Regions from separate parts of the Homo sapiens genome. Here all the other regions are linked to region 1. Evidence: fine-mapped expression QTL. A gene starts in region 1. Each other region holds a variant in brackets. All regions are shown on one strand. Distances are between the middles of the regions.

Region 1 (5,000 bases):
AATTATAAGAGTCTAAATAACACGAACTGAAGATATTTCCAATACTGATACCTATTAGAAGTGCAACTTACATCATTTAAGCATTAAAACCTTGTAAGACAGCAACTGTGGCCACAGCAGTATTCCGAATTTCAGAATCAGTTCTCTTCAATAAGACAAAAACCTTTCTTTGTTAACATAGCTGCTTTAAATATAAAGGTATCAGCATTGTCCTCTTTTGAGAACCAGTAAATTTATTCAAGAATTGATCTGTAATATCAATAATGCTTCATTTAAAAGATGTAACACGCAAGGTACACTCCAGCATCCACTTCACAATGGAGATGAATTTGAAAATCTTTGTTACATAAGGCAGGAAATTAAATATTAAGATAGTGGGGGCCCGAAATCATTAGATTAATTTTCTACCTTTCATTTCATAATGCTCAATACTTCCCCCTCCTCTAATATCAAACTGGTTGACAGCCCATTAGATAAATGTGGTGTTACTGACAAAATGGTGCAATACAGGGATGAATCTGCAACCCAGACAAAATGCGACAACTGGCGATCGGTATTCTCTTTTCATCAGCATGAAGATGTACTCGCTTAAACAAAAAAAAGCCTCAGATGCATCTAACAACCAAAAATTTTTAAAAAGACTTTTTCCCCTTTAAAATAACTCCTCCCAGCCTCCACCCAGTCTAGGCTCTCTGCAATATGACAAATGCAGAATCTTCTGGAATGACTTGATACTGCCTCTCACCACGGCTTTGTTTGCACTATCAGATCAGACAGAATATTTTTTCCCCCAACTTATAGGAATTTCAACAGACGCGTGCCTGTATTCAAAAAAGAAACGGCATATGTCACACGAATCGAACCAGTCAGCTACATTCACCACCTTTTAATTTTACAGGCAATACCTACCCTTTTCAATACAAAAACATTAGGGAATAAAATGGAGATGACATGTTGAGAATGATCAATGAAAACGCTAGCGAGACAAACGTTCTCCCTTCCTAAAAGCCGGAGGACTTGCTTTGGGCGAATGGAGAAAGAAGAGCCTTTTGTTAAGAAAAACGTGAGCAAGGTGGTTTCGATTTTGCACCACGGAGCTCAGGTTTTCAAGAGACCCTATACAATGTTTCTGGGAAGATTCTCAGGGATGTGTCGGGACAGACAGTGGGGAAGATTCTGGGGGGGCTGGGGAGGTGGAAAACCGGGAGACCTGCTGAGTGAATGGGAAAGGCGCCGCCCAGACACCAGGGAGAGAAAGAGGAACCGCATCCATGCGGTCCCCCGCCCCCACGCCCAGGCTAGGAGGAGGGGGGAAGTGGGGCACAAAGGATGCGCACGCCTCCCCGCTCGGGTCCCCTGCACCCCTAGAGCCGCGGGGGCCGGAGACCCCGCTCCCAAGTCCAGCCCCGCGGGACCTCGCCCCGGCCCGCGCCCGCGCCGGGCCTGAATGGCAGCGCCGCGGGGCCACGGGGACTCCGAAAAGAGGCCGCGTCACAGCCCGGGTTCCCGTCGCCTCTCGGGACCCTCCCCAGCCCCCCTCAGTGAGCGAGACGGGGCGGTCAACCCGCCATCGCGACAGGGCGACGAAGCCCCGGGCCTTCCACGCCAAGGACCGCGTCTTCGGAGGGGCAGGGAGCGGCGGGGGAGGGGAGGAGACACTCACGTTCTTCATGGCCGCGGCCATGTCGTCGTAGCGCTCCGCCTGCTCGGCCAGCCGGGCTTTCTGCACCAGTTGCTCGCGGTCCACCATCTTCGCGGGGCTGGGTCTGGCCGGAGAAGGAGGAGGACACTGGGGCGGCCTGAAGGGCTTGGAGGGCGCGACTGGAGCCCAAGTGCCGGAGAGGACCGACCCACAGAGCGAGCAGCTGAGGCGGCGGCTGCGCGGAGGAGGCGGCTGGAGCTGCGACCGCGGGACCGGGCGCGAGGCGGCTGCGGCTGCTGTGCGTGCCACTGACGGACAACCCCCTGCGGCCCCGCCCACGCCGCATGACGAAGGCAGGCCCCGCCCACCCGTCCGCAAGCCCCGCCCATGCCCCGCCCGAGCCCGGCCGCGGCTAGAACTCCCCGCTCCCCAGCTGGGCTCACTGCGCGTCTTCCGGGCACCCCGTCCTTTCCCACTGCGCCCCCACTCTCCCCTTTTTTCACTTCACTCCCCAGTTCCCTCACCCCAGCTTCTCCAGTCGCCCCCTTACGCCTCCCCCTTGAGCCTCCCGCCCCGCCAGCCCTCGGACGCATGGGCCCCTGGGAGTTGTAGTGTAACCTGCAGTGCACTGAGGCGCTGAGGAGACCAAGGACAAAGGGGCGGTCAAGACTACAACTCCCAGCGGACATAGCGCGCAGGCGCAGGAGGACGGGGGGGGGTGCTTCGAATCCCGAGGCCGCTGGGGACCCCTGGCGGGGATCAGGGCTGCATCAGTCCCTGCGAGTGCTGATTCACCGCCCCGCCCCATATTCTCCGGGAAATTACGAGAGGAGGGGGCAGGGGCCTCAGTCCTAGACCCTGTTTCCGAGATCACGTAGCAGGTCGTGGTGGGGGAAGGACAGGAGGCGCGTCCATTGTAGATCCAGACTCTCAGTGTGGTGCCTGCCCGCGGGATGGCCGAATTAAGGGGCCAGACCCTGGGGACTGTCACCTCCACCCCCTACGAGCTTCCATTAAACCCCCCACCCCACCTTGAGGCTCTTGGGCCTGAATAGGTGAAAACATGGACGAACGACAAATACCGGCTGGCCACAGTGGTTGATTTCCAGAAAGGATGCAGCTGTCTGCTGGCTGACCCTGGAGAACCCCTTCTTCCTCTCCAGGGTGGAGTGCTAAAGATTGAGTTCAGCTACCAGGAGCCTACTCCACATCTAACTGGGCTGCGTCTAGGGCTTGGTTGTCCAGCCCTTCTCTCCCCTCCTAAGACATACATACCTACTGAGGTCACGCTGATATATTCTCGTTCATATTATTCCACATAGCTTGCAGATAGCATGGGTTTTTTTGCTTTGTTTTGCTTTTTTGTAGAGACGGGGGTCTAGCTTTGTTGCCCATGCTGGTCTCGAACTCCTGGGCTCAAGCGATCCTCACGCCTCGGCCTCCCAAGGTGCTGGGATTACAGATGTGAGCCACCATGCCTGCAGGCCTGATAGTTTTGACTGCACATTTTATTTACTTTATGTATTCAACAATTATCTATGAGAAGCTACTGTGTTCCAAGCCCTATTCTAAGCCACGAGGTACAGTAGTGAACAAAACAGACAAAAATCCCTGCCCAAGAAAATAGGTGAGATATGTACAGTATGCTAGAAGTCAGTAAGGAGTGAGTTTTGAGGTTGCAGTGAGCTGAGATTGCGCCACTGCACTCCAGTCTGGCGACAGAGCAAGACTCCGTTTCAAAAACAAATAATAAAATAAAAAGTTTTTTAAAGGCTGGGCACGGTGACTCACACCTGTAATCCCAGCACTTTGGGAGACCGAGGCGGGCGGATGACAAGGTCAGGAGATCGAGACCATCCTGGCCAACATGGTGAAACCCTGTCTCTACAAAAAATACAAAAGAACTAGCTGGGCGTGGTGGTGCCCACCTGTTATCCCAGCTACTCGGGAGGCTGAGGCAGGAGAATCACTTGAACCCGGGAGTCGGAGGTTGCAGTGAGCTGAGATCCCTCTACTGCACTCCAGCATGGGTGACAGAGCGAGACTCCGTCTCGAAAAAAAAAAAGAAGTGAGCTTTGGCCTGGCACGGTGACTCACACCTGTAATCCCAACACTTTGGGAGGCCGAAGCGGGTGGATCATCTGAGGTCAGGAGTTCGAGACCAGCCTGGCTAACGTAGCAAAACCCCATCTCAACTAAAAATACAAAAATTAGCTGGGTGTGGTGGTGGGCACCTGTAATCCCAGCTACTTGGGAGGCTGAGGCAGGAGAATTGCTTGAACCTGGGAGGTGGAGGTTGCAGTGAGCCGAGATCGTTTCATTGCACTTCAGCCTGGGCAACAAGAGCGAAACTCCATATCAAAAAACAAAACAAAAAAAAAGTGAGCTTTGCAGACTCTGCTGCTGCCAGGAGTACTCTACTACTGGCCATGGTCAATCCCACCGTGTTCTTTGACATTACTATTGAGCCCTTGGGCTGCGTCTCCTTCAAGGTTAGGGGCATGGAAACCAAGAAGCCAAGTGACCTCTCCGGAGCTTGCAGTGAGCCGAGATTGTGCCAGTGCACTCCAGCCTGGGAGACAGAAAAAGACTCCGTCTCAAAAAAAAAAAAAAAAAAAGAAGTGACCTCTCATCTAAACTGTAAAGCCATGTTAACATATCGGAGCTGTTAGCAGACAGTGTTGTAAAGACAGCAGAAAACTTTCGTTCTCTGAGCACTGGAGAGAAAGGATTTGGTTATAAGGGTTCCTACTCTCTCTTTTTTTTTCTTTTCTTTTTCTTTTTTTTTTTTTGAGACAGAGTCTCGCTCTGTAGCCCAGGCTGGAGTGCAGTGGTGCAGTCTTGGCTCACTGCAACCTCTGCCTCCCGGGTTCAAGCGATTCTCCTGCCTCAGCCTTCTAAGTAGCTGGGATTACAGGCGCGCACCACCACGCCCAGCTAATTTTTGTATTTTTAGTAGAGACGGTGTTTCACCATGTTAGGCTGGTCTCGAACTCCTGACCTCATGATCCATCCGCCTCAGCCTCCCAAAGTGCTGGGATTACAGGTGTGAGCCATTACGCCCGGCAAGGGTTCCTACTTTCACAGAATTACTCCAGGGATTATGTGTCAGGGTGGTAACTTTACACACCATAATGGCACTGGTGGCAAGTCCATCTATGGGGAGAAATTCGATGAAGAGAACCTCATCCTGAAGCATACAGATCCTGGCATCTTGCCCATGGCAGATGTTGGACCCAACACAAATGCTTCCCAGTTTTTCATCTGCACTGCCAAGACTAAGTGGTTAGATGGCCAGCATGGAGGTCTTTGGCAAGGTGAAAGCGAGCATGAATATTGTGGAGGCCATGGAGCGCTA
Region 2 (5,418 bases), 760 kb before region 1:
TGTAATCCCAGCACTTTGGGAGGCCAAGGTGGGTGGATCACCTGAGGTCAGGAGTTTGAGACCAGCCTGGCCAACATGGTGAAACCCCATCTCTACTAAAAATACAAAAATTAGCTGGGCGTGGTGACGGGCGCCTGTAATCCCAGCTACTTGCTACTCGGGAGGCTGAGGCAGGAGAATTGCTTGAACCTGGGAGGCAGAGGTTGCAGTGAGCCGAGATTCCACAATTGCACTCCAGCCTGGCTGAGAGAGCTCTCAGCGACAACAAAACTCTCAACAACAACAACAAAAAAAAAAAGAAAAAGAAAGAAAGAAAGAAAAGAAATCTTATTAGAATTCACCCACTCTCATGCATTTACGTATTCATTTAATATCAGCTGAGGCTGCTTCTGCATTACAAAGGCAGAGTTGAATGGTTGCGATGGAGACCATGCGGCCTGCAAAGCCTAAAATATTTACTAACTGGCTCTTTGCAGAAAATGCTGACCCCTTGTCCATAGGATATATGTTTGGCCACAAGTTCCTTGTTGATGCTGGGGCTATACCAGGGCTTCTTGGACTAGTCTTCATATTTGTATACGTTTGAACTTTTCTATAATGAAAGGTTAAAAAAAAAAACTTTGACCCAGTAATCTCACTCCTAGGAATCTATCCTTTGGAAATAAAAACTTTTTTTTTTTTTTTCTGTTTAGACAGAGTCTCACTCTGTTGCCCAGGCTGGAGTGCAGTGGCATGATCTCAGCTCACTGCAAACTCCGCCTCCTGGGTTCAAGCGATTCTCCTGCCTCAGCCTCCCAAGTAGCTGGGACTACAGGCGCATGCCACCATGCCTGGCTAATTTTTATATTTTTAGTAGAGACAGGGTTTCGCTATGTTGACCATCCTGGTCTCGAACTCCTGACCTCAAGTGATCCACCCGCCTCGGCCTCACAAAGTGCTGGGATTACAGGCGTGAGCCACAGCACCTGGCCAGCTTTTTTTTTTTTTTTTTTTTTTTTTTTTTCAAAAGAGATAGGGTTTCGCTGTCTTGCTATGTTGCCCAGGCTGGCGGGACTTGAACACTTGGATTCCAGTGATCCTCCTACCTCAGCCTCTCAAGTAGCTGGGACTATAGCTGCACACTGCCACATCCAGCTGCTGTTTTTCTAAATTCTCAGATATGCTCTTTTTTTTTTTTTTTTTTTTTTTTTTTGAGACGGAGTCTCGCTCTGTCACCAGGCTGGAGTGCAGTGGCGTGACCTCGGCTCACTGCAACCTCTGCCTCCTGAGTTCAAGCGATTCTCTCACCTCAGCCTCCCGAGTAGCTGGGACTACAGGCGCCTGCCACCACGCCCAGCTAATGAATATGTTCTTAAATTCATATCTCCTTATATATTTTCTTCTCCTGACCAGACTTGATTTTTAAACAGTATAACCTCTGTTGTAAGTTGAATTGTATACCCCCGCCCCACAAAAATATATAATCACGCCCAACCCCCCCCACCCCGTACCTATGAATATGATCTTATTTACAAATAGGGCATTTGCAGATGTAATTAGTTAAGATGAGGTCACACTGGAGTAGGGTCATATTATGGAATGTAATATGACTGGTGATCCTCGAAGAAGATGTAGGGATCCAGAGACACACAGGGAGGATGCTGCATGAAATGAGACAGAGATGAGTGATGAGTCTACAAGCCAAGGAATGCCAAGGACAGCCAGCGGCCACGAGAAGCTAGAAAGAATCCTTCCCGGCCGGGCGCAGTGACTCACACCTGTCATCCCAGCACTTTGAGAGGCAGAGGCGGGAGGATCACCTGAGGTCAGGAGTTCAAGACCAGCCTGGCCAACACAGCGAAACCGTGTCTCTACTAAAAAATACAAAAATTAGCTGGGTGTGGTGGTGTGTGCCTGTAGTCCTAGCTATTAGGGAGGTTGAGGCAGGTGGATTGCTTAAGCCCAGGAGGTTGAGAGTGCAGTAAGCAGTAATCACGCCACTGCACTCCAGCCTGGGTGACAGAGCGAGACTCTCAAAAAAAAAAAAAAAAATGGAGCCTTTCCTAGAGCTTTCAGAGACAGTATTGCCCTACCTTGCAAGACGGTGAGAGAATGCAGCCACCCAATTAGTGGGAATTTGTTGACAGCCCCAGGAAACTAATTACAGGGTCCTTTCCCCATCAGATGGGGTCCTCTGGGAGGACAAGAATGACATGCGATGCTTCCCCTACAGCACATGATTTGGGGCTCTCCTGAGCACAGTCGTTGGCTCTGCAGGGTGAGCGTAAGAGCAGTCAGGAAGGAATCTCTGGCCAGCACTTTGGGAAGCTGAGGTGGGAGGATCGCTTAAGGCCAGGATTTTGAGATCAGCCCGGACAACATGGTGAAACCCTGTCTCTACAAAAAATACAAAAATTAGCCAGGTGTGGTGGTGCACAACTGTAGTCCCAGCTACTAGGGAGGTTGAGGTGGGAGGATCGCTTAAGCCCAGCAGGCAGAGGTTGCAGTGAGCCGTGATCGCCCCCACTGCATTCCAGCCTGGGCAACAGAGCAAAAACCCTGTCTCAAAAAAAAGGAAAAAAAAAAAGATGCAAGTAAGAAGTGAAAAGTTCATTCCCCTAAACCTCTCCATGAAGCAGTACTTCTCTCCTATGGAGA[C/T]GCAGTGCTTACAGCTTCCTCTTAGCACGTCCTTCCCTGGACCTTAGTCCTCAGTGACAGAACTGTCCCAAGCACTGTCTTCCCTGTACATTTCCTCAAGTGCATTACAGCCGTTTAAACTATGTTCTTCCCCTGGCACCATAGGCCAGGGGCACCATGACATAGGCTGGGGCACCATGACAATGGCAAAATTCTGGCTGCAGACAGACCCCTGGGCAAAGTCTCCATACTTCCGGAGCCCATCAAGGTTGTCTGCAGTCAGAAAGGACTTACAAGGCATATAAACACATAGAAGGACAAGAAACCCAAATCTGTAAGATGCTGACCTGGACATGGTTAAGTTCCAGGGGGTTTGGGAAGGCCTGTAAGGAATATGGGCCGTGAGGAAGAGGACCACACCAGGTAGTTGGAAATGCTAGAAATGGGGCTGGATGTGGTGGCTCATGCCTGTAATCCCAGTACCTTAGGAGACTCAGGTGGGAAGATCACTTCAGGACAGGAGTTCAAGACCAGCCTGGGCAACATAGTGAGACCTCATCCCTACAAAATATTAGCTGGGTATGGTGGCATGCGCCTGTATTCCCAGCTACTCTGGAGACTGAGGTGGGAGGATTACTTGAGCGATCCAGGCATTGGAGGCTGCAGTGAGCTGAGATTGCATCACTATGCTCGTCTGAATGACAGAGCAAGACCTTGTCTTAGAAAAGAAGGAAGAAGGAAGGAAGGAAGGAAGGGAGGGAGGGAGGGAAGAAAAATGGTAGAAACTGCTTCAGGGCCTCTAGGGAGGACCCATGATGGGTGAGATTTAGATTTACCCTAAAAATAACTGTTCCTACTGCTTGACCAATTGCTCAAACTTGTGGTCATTATGAACCTTGCTCACACACACACGCAAAAATCTTATAGTAACAAATTTTTAAAATCTTTAAAATTCCCATAAGCCACGTAAAATAATATACCGTGAGTTTGTGACTATGGATCCACTGAGTGTGTGTGTATAGCTGAGAATCAGGAAAGTTCTGTGCTGTAGTGTTGAAAGGAGAGAGAAACCTTTTAAACTGAGACACTGCTCAAGGAAGACTTCTTAAAGGGAAAGGAGGGATAACTCGGCCCAGCTACTGTCCCAGCCATTACCCACTTCTGTCATATATGCCTCATAGGAACTCTGGGGTCTGGAGGGCTGTTGTTCAGAAAGGTGGAGAAACTCACCCAAGGTCATGCTCTTTGGTTCCAAGCCCTGAACCAGCACCCGCTCTGTACTGTGGAGGGGTTCGGGCCTGCAGGGGACTGGGTCTGGGGTTCTGGACACAGATGACAGGCCTTCTGGGCAGAGGAAGTGCCACAAGTAAAGGCACCAAAGTGGAAGGGCATGGAGCATGCAGCCTGAGGGCCGGGGGGGATGGAGGAGAAGCCAGGAGGCAGGTGAGGCTGCGTGTGGGAGGCCAGTGGGCTTCTGAGTGGCAAGAAGAGATGACAGCAGGTGGAGGGGAATGGGCCAGCAGTGGCGGCAGCTGGGGTAGAGCTGGATGGAGCCTGGAGGTGAGAATTCAGGGAGGAAGCTATTTTTGTTGTTGTTGTTGTTTTGAGACGGAGTCTTGCCCTGTCGCCCAGGCTGAAGTGCAATGGCGCAATCTTGGCTCACTGCAACCTCCACCTCCTGGGTTCGAGTGATTCTCCTGTCTCAGCCTCCGAAGTAGCTGGGATTATAATAGTTGCACATTACCACGCCTGGCTAATTTTTGTATTTTTAGTAGAGACAGGGTTTTGCCATGTTGGCCAGGCTGTTCTCAAACTCCTGTCCTGAGGTGATCCCCCTGCCTTGGCCTCCCAGTGTTGGGATTAGAGGCGTGAGCTACCGCGCCTGGCTGTATTTTTATTTAATCAATTATTATTATTTTTTGGAGACAGGGTCTTGCTCTGTCACCCAGGCTGGAGTGCAGTGGTGCAATCATAGCTTACTATAGCCTCAACCTCCTGGGTTCAGGCAATCCTCCCACCTCAGCTTCCTGAGTAGCTGGGACCACAGGCACATACCACTATGCCTGGCTAGTTGGTTTTTTTAAATAGAGACGGGGTCTCATTATGTTGCCCAGGCTGGTCTTGAACTCCTGGCCTCAAGCAATCCTATTGCTTCAACCTCCTAAAGTGCTGGGCTTATAGGTGTGAGACACCATGCCCAGCCAGAAGCTATTTAATAGCATAAAAGTACAGGAAAAATGGAATCAAAATGAAAGATGTGAGAATGGAAATGACCCAATATAATGTGAGCTGTAAAACGAGCTTCAGTAGGACTGGCAGATAGGAGCTCCGGGTTACAGGGAGACAGCAGAAGGATGCATCCATGGTGCCTCCAAGATGATGCAGAGACTTTAGGAGGCCGAGGGGGGCAGATCACCTGAGACCAGGAGTTCAAGACCAGCCTAGCCAACATGGTGAAACCCCATCTCTACTAAAATACAAAAATTAGCTGAGTGTGGTGGCTCATGCCTATAATCCCAGCTACTTGGGAGGCTGAGGCAGAATTGCTTGAACACGGGAGGTGCAGGTTGCAGTGAGCCGAGATCCCGCCATTGTACTCCTGCCTGGGCGACAGAGTGAGACTCCGTCTCAAAAAAAAAAAAGATGATGCAGAGGCTCTGGACCTAGATGAGGGGAGGATAGCAGCAAGGGCCACAAGCTGGGGAGACACTGTAAGAAAAGGACCCGAAGGAACAATGAACAATGAGGCCAGGCGGCTCTTGGGTAAGAAATAGCCATTTTTAAAAGAATGAGGAAGTGAAC
Region 3 (5,418 bases), 53 kb after region 1:
CCTAATTTTGCCTTCTTGTGTAGTTCTTTTTTTTTTTTTTGAGATGGAGTTTCGCTCTTGTTGCCCAGGCTGGAGTGCAATGGTGTGATCTCAGCTCACAGCAACGTCCGTCTCCCCGAGTTCAAGGGATTCTCCTGCCTCAGCCTTCCAAAGTGTTGGGATTACAGGCATGAGCCACTGCACTGGCCAAAAAAAAAAAATGTTGAGAAGCTCCTGAGGATCAAACAAATTGGGGACCAGTCCCAGCTTTTTATGGTGAGGCTGGGAAGACTGAGGCCAAGGGAGGAAAACAGGTGGCATGAGTGTGGGCCCGGCAGGACTTAATTTCCTGACTCCTGGTCATGATGCTGTTTCCTATTTCTTGGAAAAAGAAAGTACTAGATGTACCAGGCGAGGTGGCTCATACCTGTAATCCCAGCACTTTGGGAGGCTGAGGTGGGCAGATCACTTGAGGTCAGGAGTTCGAGACCAGCCTGGCTGACATGGTGAAACCCCGTCTCTACTAAAAATACAAAAATTAGTCAGGTGTGGTGGCGGGTGCCTGTAATCCCAGCTACTCGAGAGGCTGAGGTGGGAGAATCGCCTGAACCCGGGAGGTGGAGGTTGCAGTGAGCTGAGATCGCACCACTGCACTCCAGCCTGGGCAACAGAGCAAGACTCCATCTCAAAAGAAAAAAAAAAAAAAAAAAGAAAAGAAAATACTTGATGGAAGGCTGCCATCACCATGCTGCAAAATCTCCACGCCCCTGCTGCCCGCACCTGTCCTTCCTCCCTCCCTCCTCCCCTGGCCTGGGGAAGCCCCTTCCCTGAAGTCCAGATTCCATTCCTTCCGTCATCTCAGGGACCTCTTTCCCTCCATCTGCACATCTATCTGTCTTCCATGTTCAGCTGCTCCTTCCCAATCAGATTTTTCGGTTCCTAAGCAAGCTCTCGTCTTTCCCATTAAAGCAAACAGTGGCCAGGAGTAGTGGCTCATGCCTGTAATCCCAACACTTCCGGAAGCAAAGGCAGGAGGATCGCTTGAGACCAAGAGCTCAAGACCAGCCTGGGCAACATAGGGAGACCCCATCTCTATAAAAAATTAGAAACATAGCCGGGCATGATGGTGCGCACTGGGCTGTAGTCAGTTACTTGCAAGGCTGAGGTGGGAGGATGACTTGAGCCTGGGAGGTTGAGCCTGCAGTGAGCTATGATTGTGCCACTGCACTCCAGCCTGGGTGACAGAGAGAGACCCTGTTTTAGGGGAAAAAAAAAGAACGATGATGAGTTATTGCCACCCACCTATGAGAATGGTTGAAAAAAAAATAGTTGGTGATATCAAATGCTAGTGAGGATATGGAGAAACTGGGTTCCTCACACATTGCTGATGGGAATGTAAAATGGTCCAGATACTCTGAAATATAGTCTGACAGTGTCTTAAAAATCTAAATGTACATTCACCATATGAACTAGCAATTGTACTCCTGGGCATTTATCCAAGAGAAATGAAAACTTACATCTTCACAAAAAAAACCAGTATGTGAATGCTCATAGCAGTTTTATTTGTAATAGCCAAAAACAGGAAGCATTCAAAATTTCCTTTAGCTGGGTGAGGTGGCGTGTGCCTGTAGTCTCAGCTACCCAGGAGGCTGTGGCAGGAGGATCACTTGAGCCCAGGAATTTGAGACCATCCTGGGAAACACAGTGAGACTCCAACTCTACAAAAATAAAATAATTAGCCAGGCATGGTGATTCTTGTGGACCCAGCTACACGAGAGGCTGAGGTGGGAGGATCACTTGAGCCCAAGAAGTTGAGGCTGCAGTGAGCTGTGCTTGCGTCACTGCACTCCAGCCTGGGGGACAGAGTGAGACTCTGTCTCAAAAAAAAAAAAAAAGAAAAGAAAAAGATAAAAAAGGAATAACTGTTGATGTATGCAACAATTTGGATGGATCCCAAGGGCATTATAATGAGTAAAAAAAGCTAGTCTTAAAGCTCACACATTGTATGATTCCGTTTATAAAACATCTTCAAAATGATGAAATTGCACAGGTGAAAAACAGATTAGTAATGTTTAGGTTTAAGGATTGTGGAGGGCAAGAGTGGGTGTGATTACAAAGAGGTAGTACAAAGGGGTATTTATGATGATGAAATAGTTTTGTATCTTAATTGTATATGATAAAATAACAGAACTATACACACACCTTGTATCATGTCATGTTCTTGGTTTTGGTATTATAATTTTATGGAAGATGTAAACATTGCTGGGCGCAGTGGCTCACGCCTATAATCCCAGCACTTTGGGAGGTCGAGGCAGGCAGATCACCTGAGGTCGGGAGTTTGAGACCAGCCTGACCAACATGGAGAAACCCCATCTCTACTAAAAATACAAAATTAGCCAGGGGTGGTGGCGCATGCCTGTAATCCCAGCTACTCGGGAGGCTGACGCAGGAGAATCGCTTGAACCCGGGAGGCGGAAGTTGCAGTGAGCTGAGATCGCGCCATTGCACTCCAGCCTGGGCAACAAGAGCAAAACTCCGTCTCAGAAAGAAAAAAAAAAAAGATGTAAACATTGAGGAAGCTAGGGTGAAGGGTAACCACACATCCCTATACATTCCTTTCTTTTCTTTTCTTTCTTCTTTGTCTTCTTCTTCTTCTTCTTTTTTTTTTTTTTTGAGACGGAGTCTTTCTCTGTTGCCCAGGCTGGAGTGCAATGATGTGATCTCGGTTCACTGCAACCTGTGCCTCCTGGGTTCAAACGATTCTCCTCCTTCAGCCTCCCAAGTAGCTGGGACTACAGGCGCGTGCCACTGCGCCCAGCTAATTGTTCTATTTTTAGTAGAGACGGGGTTTCATCATGTTGGCCAGGCTGGTCTTGAACTCCTGACCTCATGGCCTCCCCAACTCGGCCTCCCAAAGTGCTGGGATTACAGGTGTGAGCCGCTGTGCCTGGCCTCTTCTTTTTTTGAGACAGGGTCTTGCTTTGTTGCCCAGTATGGAGTGAAATGCTGTGATCACAACTTACTGCAGCCTCAACCTCTTGGGCTCAAGCGATCCTTCCGCCTCAGCCTCTCAGCTTCCTGCGTAGCTGGGACTACAGGCGCATGCCACCACAACTTGCTAATTTCTGTATTTTTTTTTAGTAGAGTCAGGGTTTTGCCATGTTGGCCAGGCTAGTCTCAAACTCTTCAGCTCAAGCAATCCTCCCACCTTGGCTTCCCAAAGTGCTGGGATTACAGGCTTGAGCCACCATGCCCAGCCACCACTTCCTGTGAATCTATAATGATTTCAAAATAAAA[CT/C]TTTTTTTAAAAAAAAGCCTCAATTGATTTACAACAACAAAACAGACTAATATTTTAATTTTATTTATTCATTTATTTTTTGAGACAAGTTCTCCCTGTTGCCCAGGGTGGAGTGTAGTGGCGTGATCATAGCTCATTGCAGTTGCGAACTCTGAGGTTGAAGTAATCCTCCCACCTCAGTTCCCCGAGTAGCTGGGACTACAGGCGTGCGCCACCATGCCCAGCTAATTATTGTATTTTTTGAAGAGACAAAGTCTCACTATGTTGCCCAGGCTGGCTTCAAACTCTTGGGCTGAAGCAATCCTCCTGCCTCAGCCTCCCAAAGTGCTGGGATTATAGGCATGAGCCACCTCATCTGGCCCATGCTGATTTTTCTTTCTTTCCTTCTTCTTCTTTTTTTTTTTTTTTTGAGACAGAGTCTTCCTCTGTCACCCAGGCTGGAGTGCAGTGGCGTGATCTCAGCTCGCTGCAACCTCCACCTCCTGGGTTCAAGTGATTCTCATGCCTCAGCCTCCCAAGTAGCTGGGATTACAGGTGTGTGCCACCACACCTGGCTAATTTTTGTACTTTTAGTAGAGATGTGGTTTTGCCATGTTGCCCAGGCTGGTCTTGAACTCCTGGCCTCAAGCGGTCCGCCTGCCTTAGCGTCCCAAAGTGCTGGGATTACAGGTGTGAGCCACTGCACCCAGCCCCATATTAATATTTGTATTTGAAAGCAAAAAATTTTAGTACCTCTCTAAGTCACCACCTCAAGGTGTGATAAATGGATTCTGACAAGTGGTTTTTCCTGACATGAGAAGCTGCAGGTGCCTAGGCGGTTGGTTCACTGATTTTCCTCCTCAAAGACCCTTTGGGAGCAGCCTGGCATGACTGGAGAGTGGGAAAATCTGCCTATGGTCTGTAAATGGATTCTCTCTGAGTTTGCCTATTACGGAATGTGTGCTTCTTCAACGCTTCCGCTCCTGGGAGGTCAGTAACACTCAAGTGCTGATGATTCCATTTAGGACAGTTAGGAAAAGACCTTCTCATGCAGGAACAGACTCTGCTTCTACCCCTTCCCTTTCCCCTTCCCCTTCCCCTCCTCCTCCTCCTTTTTTTTTTTTTTTTTTTTTTTGAGACGGAGTCTTGCTCTGTCACCCAGGCTGGAGTGCAATGCTGTGATCTCGGCTCACCGCCCCACCTGCGCCTCCTGAGTTCAAGTGATTCTTCTGCCTCAGCCTCCCAAGTAGCTGGCACTACAGATGCAAGATGAGTGCCACAGTAACCAGCACAACTCCAAATCTTATGCAGCCATGGTACATTTGTCAAAACTGAGAAATTAACATTGGCACATTAATATTAACCAAACTACAGATTTTATTTCAATGAGTATTACCAGTTTTCTCACTAATGTCCTTTTTCTGTTCCAGGAGCCAATCCAGGATACCACATTGCATTTAGTAAGCACATTTTACAATTACGATATAGGCATTAAAAGGTCTGGAACGAGGCCCAGCGCGGTGGCTCATGCCTGTAATCCCAGCACTTTGGAAGGCCGAGGTGGGCGGATCACGTGAGGTCAGGAATTCAAGACCAGCCTGGCCAACATGGTGAAACCCTGTCTCTGCTAAATTAGCCAGGTGTGGTGGCACATGCCTGTAGTCCCAGCTACTTGGGAAGCTGAGGCAGGAGAATCCTTGGAACCCGGGGAGCGGAGGTTTCAGTGAGCCGAGATCGCGCCACTGCACTTCAGCCTGGCGATAGAGTGAGACTCCGTCTCAAAAAAAAAAAAAAAGGTCTGGAATGATTCAGCACAAACTATTAACTATGACAACTATGACAACTGTTACCAATGGCTGGGGGTGGCGGGAGTGGATTTGATTCTTATTTTAGATTTTATTTTATTTTTTATTTATTTATTTTTTTTGAGACAGAGTCTCGCTTTGTCACCCAGGCTGGAGTGCAGTGGCACAGTCTCGGCTCACTGCAACCTCTGCCTCCCAGGTTCACGCCATTCTCCTGCCTCAGCCTCCCAAGTAGCTGGGACTACAGGCATCCGCCACCACAACCGGCTAATTATTTTTGTATTTTTAGTAGAGATGGGGTTTCACCATGTTAGCCAGGATGGTCTTGATCTCCTGACCTCGTGATCCACCCGCCTC
Region 4 (5,418 bases), 42 kb after region 1:
CGCCTCCCTGGTTAAAGCAATTTGCCTGCCTCAGCCTCCTGAGTAGCTGGGATTACAGGTGCCTGCCACCATGCCCAGCTAATTTTTTGTATTTTTAGTAGAGATGGGGTTTCACCATGTTGGTCAGGCTGGTCTTGAACTCCTGACCTCAGGTGATACACCTGCCTCGGCTTCCCAAAGTGCTGGAATTACAGGCATGAGCCACCGTGCCCAGCCTGAAGCACAGTTCTTAAAGCAGTTCACCTCCCTTGGGAACTGTTAGCGATGCAGATTCTCAGGCCCCATCCAGACCTGCAGAATCAGAAACTCTGGGATTGGGCCTCAATCTGTGTTTTCATGAGACCCCCTGATTTTCTTGAAAACTAGAAGCACTGCTCTCAGTTTCCGCTGCAGCTCTATGCCACGTGGAGCGCATGGCCAGTGTGACCCCAATAGTCGTTTTTTTCTTTGTTTTTCGAGACAGGATCTTGCTCTGTCACCCAGGCTGGAGTGCAGTGTCACAATCACGGCTCACTGCAGCCTTGACCCCCCCAGACTCCAGCGATCCTCCCTCCTCTGCCTCCCAAGTAGCTGGGACCGCCCCCAACACCTTGCTAATTTTTCTGATTTTTCGTAGAGATAAGGTACTATGTTCCCAAGATGGTCTCAAACTCCTGGGCTCAAGCAATCTTGCCACCTTGGCCTCCCAAAGTGCTGGAGTTACTGGCATAAACCACCATGCCCGGCTGATTGTCTGGTTTTAAAACTAGGAGAGGGGAACCAGTGGGGTGACTTGGACCTGTAGTTCCAGCTACTGAGGCGGGAGAATCCCTTGAGCCCAGGAGTTTGAGGCTGCAGTGGGCTATGATCACACCACTGCACTCTGGTCGGGACCAAACAGTGAGACCTCATCTCCAAAATCTCTAAAAAAATTTTTTTTAAAGGGAGAGGGGCTCTGCTGGGACAATCAAAGCCTTACATAGAAGCAGTAGTGCTGGTTTTCTTTTGGTCCAAGGTCAGGGTCAGGCAATGACCCAGAAGAATCCCTGGGACCCAGGCTGGGGTTCTTCCCTGGCACCAGGCATTGTAGCCTCTGGCCTGATCTGCATGGAACAGCCTTACCTGTGGGAAGTCCCTTCATTTATCTAGCCTACAGCCCTGCTGCCTGCCACAGTCTGTCTGTCCCTCCAGGTCCCAGGGCTCCACTCACCATCACACAGGACAGCCACATCCTCGTAGTGAAAGCAATTGTGGACGCCCCAGCCGCGGCTGCCGCACTCGCTCAGCGCAGCTTCCTGCCCGCGGCACTCCACGTTGTCCAGCAGGATGGGGCCTCGGCCTTGGCCAAAGGCAAGGGGCCGTGGCACGGGCAGTGCCAGGCCACAGCCCAGCTGGCGACACACTACGTTGGCGTCCACCACGTCCCAGTCGTCATCACAGACGCTGCCCCAGGAGCCACCGTGCATGACTTCCAGGCGGCCCCGGCAGCGGCTGGGGCCCCCCACCAGCCTCAGCTCTGTGAAGAGGGTGGAGCTGGCACCAGGGGGTCACTGAGTCCAACCTCCAGCATGCCCACTCCAGGATGTCCTTTTATTTTATTATTATTTTTTTTGGTAGAGACGGGGTCTCACTATGTTGCCAAGGCTGGTCTCAAACTCCTGGGCTCAAGTGATCCTCCTGCCTTGGCCTCCCAAAGCGCTAGGATCACAGACGTGCACTACGGGACCCAGCCAGGTTACCCGCTTTGCCATGAAGCCATGGGAACCTTGGGATCAATCCCTTCTGGAAAATGGGGAGACTACAGCTCCCCTGAGATGGGGGCATCTAGAGTCAAGGGGGGCTGGTTAGTCATCACTTCCTGTGGTTCCCTGTCTGAGGCTGGAGTACCTGGCGGACAGGTGAGGGTGAGGAAGGGCGGGGTGGGGCACCTACCTTGAAAGGGCAGTGGAGTGGGCTGTAGGGCGCTGGCTGAAACAGAGTGAGGAAGAGCATTGGCCCCTCTGCCCACACCATGGCTCCCTGGTCCCAGGAACACACCCCCCAACTCCCACAGTCCTCAACATTACCCCCATCTTCTTGGACTTCAGTACCCCTGCTTTGCCAAAGCCCCATTGTCTCTTTCTCTGACTGTCCTGATTGGCTTCCCTGCCTCACCCCTCTCCTAGTGGTCCCTGGGCCAACCTAGAGAGATCTGCGGGTGTAAATCTGTAGATCTGCACATCTCAAACTAATGCTAAATCCCATAATGACCCCTGTTACCTACAGGAGTCTCAGCTCCTGAGCTTTCACTACAAAACCTTCTAGAATCTTCTAACCATTCTGACCAGCCTCGCCTTTTTTCTTTTCTTTTCTTTTTTTGAGACAAAGTCTCACTCTTGTCACCCAGGCTGGAGTGCAATGGCACGATCTCAGCTCACTGCAGCCTCTTCCTCTGGGGTTCAAGCGATTCTTCTGCCTCAGCCTCCCGAGTAGCTGGGATTACAGGTGCACACCACCAAGTCCAGCTAATTTTTGTATTTTTAGTAGAGATGGGGTTTCGCCATGTTGGCCAGGCTGGTCTTGAACTCCTGACCTCAGGTAATCCACCCACTTTGGCCTGCTAAAGTGCTGGGATTATAGGTGTGAGCCAACACACCTAGGCAAGAGCTTTTTTCAATTCCCAGCTTGGAGCCCCTTCCTCTGGGAAGCCATCCTGGAGCCCTCAGCTAGAAGTGCTCTCTGTTTCCTCTGAATTCCTGGACACCACATACCCAGGCCTCTTTCAGGGCCTTCTCTGGTAATGTGGCCATGCCTGTCTCAACTCTGTGTCCCCAGACTCTCCGCTCAGAACCTGGTACTCAGCAGATGTTCAGTAGCTCCACCTTAAATGTGTAAATTGGCTTTGGGATTCATCATATTTCCCTCCCTAAAGATTTACCTAGATGAGTCCTTCTACTTCATTCTTCTTCTTCTTCTTCTTTTTAAGACAGTGTCTCAGTCTGTCACCCAGCCTGGAGTGCAGTGACATGATCATAGCTCACTGCACCCTCCAATACCGGAGTTCAATCCATCCTCCCGCCTCAGCCTCCAGAATAGCTGGGACAAGCTCCTGCCACCCTGCCCAGCT[A/AT]TTTTTTTTTTTTTTTTTTGAGACAGAGTCTTACTCCATTCAGGCTGGAGCACAGTGGCATGATCTCATCTCACTGCAGCCTCTGCCTCCTGGGTTCAAGTGATTCTCCCACCTCAGCCTCCCGAGTAATTGGGACTGCAGGCGCACACCGCCACACCCAGCTAATTTTTATATTTTTTAGGTAGAAATGGGGTCTCACCATGTTGGCCAGGCTAGTCTTGAACCCTTAACCTCAAGTGATCCGCCTGCCTCAGCCTCCCAAAGTGCTAGGATTACAGGCATGAGCCACCGCTCCTGGCCTAATTTTTTAATTTTTTGTAGAGACAGGGGTCTCACTTTGTTGCCCAGGCTGGTCTCGAACTCTTGGCCTCAAGTGATCCTCCCGTCTCAGCCTCCCAAAGTGCTAGAATTACAGGTGTGAGCCACCTTGCCTGGCCTTGAGTCTTTCTGCTTCAGCCATCATGTATGTCCTCATTGCTTTCTTTTTTTCTTTTTTGTTTTTCTTGAGACGGAATTTCGCTCTTGTTGCCCAGGCTAGAGTGCAATGGTGCCATCTTTGCTCACCGCAACCTCCCCCTCCTGGGTTCAAGTGATTCTCCTGCCTCAACCTCCCAAGTAGCTGGGATTACAGGCATACCACCATGCCTGGCTAATTTTGTATTTTTAGTAGAGATGGGGTTTCTGCATGTTGGTCAGGCTGGTCTCAAACTCCCGACCTCAGGTGATCCATCCGCCTCAGCCTCCCAGAGTGCTGGGATTACAGGCGTGAGCCACTGCACCCGGCCTTCATTGGTTTCTTTAGGCGAACTCAGTTAATCATTAGGATAATTTATAAGTTAGGCAGGATTTTACAGACAGGGCAACTTCAGGGTTAGTGAGATTAGACAACTTACTCAGGGCCACGTAGCAAATCAAGGGTAGAGCTGAGAGACTACCCAGACAGCCACACTCTTCTTCATCATGCAGTTCTGAGCACGATGCTTGAGAGTGGAGGTGGGAGAGGAAACAGGGAAGTGAAATTTGCCTACCAGGCAAAATGGAAAGCCGGAAAATAATTCCTCACTTGTGGTCCGAGTATGACAGTTCTGACACTTTCCTTATAACCACCCCCTGCAGCCTGTACTTGTGTACGCATTTTACTGATGAAGAAACTGAGACTCCACTTCTTTTTTTTGAGACAGAGTCTCGCCCTGTCACTCAGGCTGGAGTGCAATGGCGCAATCTCAGCTCACTGCAACCTCCACCTCCTGGGTTCAAACAATTCTCCTGCCTCAGCCTCCTGAGTAGCTGGGATTACAGGCGCCCGCCACCATGCCCAGCTATTTTTTGTATTTTTAGTAGAGACGGGGTTTCACCATGTTGGCCGGGCTGGTCCTGAACTCCTGACCTCATGATCCGCCCTCCTCAGCCTCCCAAAGTGCTGGGATTACAGGCGACAGCCACCGTGCCTGGCTGATTCAACTTATTCTTATTTATTTATTTATCTTTATTTCTTTTTGAGACAGAGTCTCGCTCTGTCACCCAGGCTGGAGTGCAGTGGCGTGATCTTGGCTCACTGCAACCTCCACTTCCCAGGTTCAAGTGATTCTCCTGCCTCAGCCTCCTGAGTAGCTGGGATTACAGGTGCGTGCTGCCAAGCCTGGTTAATTTTTGTATTTTTAGTAGGGACGCGGGTTTCACCATGTTGGCCAGGCTGGTCTCAAACTCCTGATCTCAGGTGATCTTTCCGCCTTGGCCTCCCAAAGTACTGGGATTGCAGGTGTGAGTCACCGAGCCCGGCCTTCTTCTTATGTTTGGATAGTCCCTAGGTCATTTGATTTCATCTCTTTTACCAGCTGTCTTTCCAACAGCCATTGGTGAGCACACCCTCTTTCTGTCCTTCCCTGTGCCCAGTGTCCCCTAACTGCCCATTCCATGGGTGCGTTTACCTGTCACCTCCAGTACTGAGCCCTTCATTCCCCAAACTCAGACTCTTAGCTCTTTTGTCAACTCTGGGCAAAGGTCAGCATTGGAAAGAACAACAGGAACGAGCTCATTCACAACCCTCCTCCTACTATAAAGTTACAGCTGGGACAACTGAGATTCAGAAAGAGGAAGTGGCAAGGGCTAACAGGGGAGGACTCACCCAGTGGCAGGAGGAGAAGGAAAGACAGGGCTTGGGGGAGGAAGGGAGGGGCAGCACTCCCATCTCCCAACCTCCACCCCCAGCGCTTCTCATCCAGCTGGGGACCAATTAGCATCTCTGCTTCCTTGTGCATCTAGATGGTGAAGGGTGTTTCAGATGCTCCCATCAAGGCGCCAGGGAGAAGTCACAGTTGGAACATCTGAAATTA

Which allele goes with the higher level. Positions count from the first base shown, and alleles are read on the strand shown. Sizes are in standard deviations (SD) of each study's normalised expression. Not every link is listed here.
With allele T in place of C in region 2, the expression in caudate of the gene that starts at base 1,933 in region 1 is higher (small effect, 0.35 SD a copy in GTEx).

What was found.
Region 2: its variant is fine-mapped to the expression of YWHAG in caudate (GTEx, PIP 0.98).
Region 3: its variant is fine-mapped to the expression of YWHAG in whole blood (INTERVAL, PIP 0.98).
Region 4: its variant is fine-mapped to the expression of YWHAG in whole blood (INTERVAL, PIP above 0.99).

What each region holds. Positions count from the first base shown.
Region 1 is chr7:76,357,059-76,362,058 of GRCh38, forward strand. YWHAG (tyrosine 3-monooxygenase/tryptophan 5-monooxygenase activation protein gamma) reads right to left here and starts at 1,933. Exons shown (of 2, transcript NM_012479.4): 1 at 1,664-1,933. The coding sequence starts at 1,750. It also overlaps the pseudogene PPIAP81. RefSeq lists silencers at 1,064-1,254, 1,338-1,537, 1,858-2,267 and an enhancer at 1,362-2,008.
Region 2 is chr7:75,601,330-75,606,747 of GRCh38, forward strand. All of the region lies in intron 1 of HIP1 (huntingtin interacting protein 1), which reads right to left. Among named protein-coding and RNA genes, the nearest start is that of SPDYE5, 110 kb to the left of the region's middle. RefSeq lists an enhancer at 1,595-2,545. The variant C/T (reference allele first, on the strand shown) is at 2,638.
Region 3 is chr7:76,410,329-76,415,746 of GRCh38, forward strand. It overlaps a transcript of ZP3 not described here. Among named protein-coding and RNA genes, the nearest start is that of SSC4D, 3.3 kb to the left of the region's middle. The variant CT/C (reference allele first, on the strand shown) is at 3,277.
Region 4 is chr7:76,399,097-76,404,514 of GRCh38, forward strand. SSC4D (scavenger receptor cysteine rich family member with 4 domains) reads right to left here. Exons shown (of 11, transcript NM_080744.2): 2 at 5,211-5,409; 3 at 1,912-1,947; 4 at 1,190-1,495. The coding sequence starts at 5,343. It also overlaps a transcript of ZP3 not described here. Among named protein-coding and RNA genes, the nearest start is that of SSC4D, 7.9 kb to the right of the region's middle. The variant A/AT (reference allele first, on the strand shown) is at 3,086.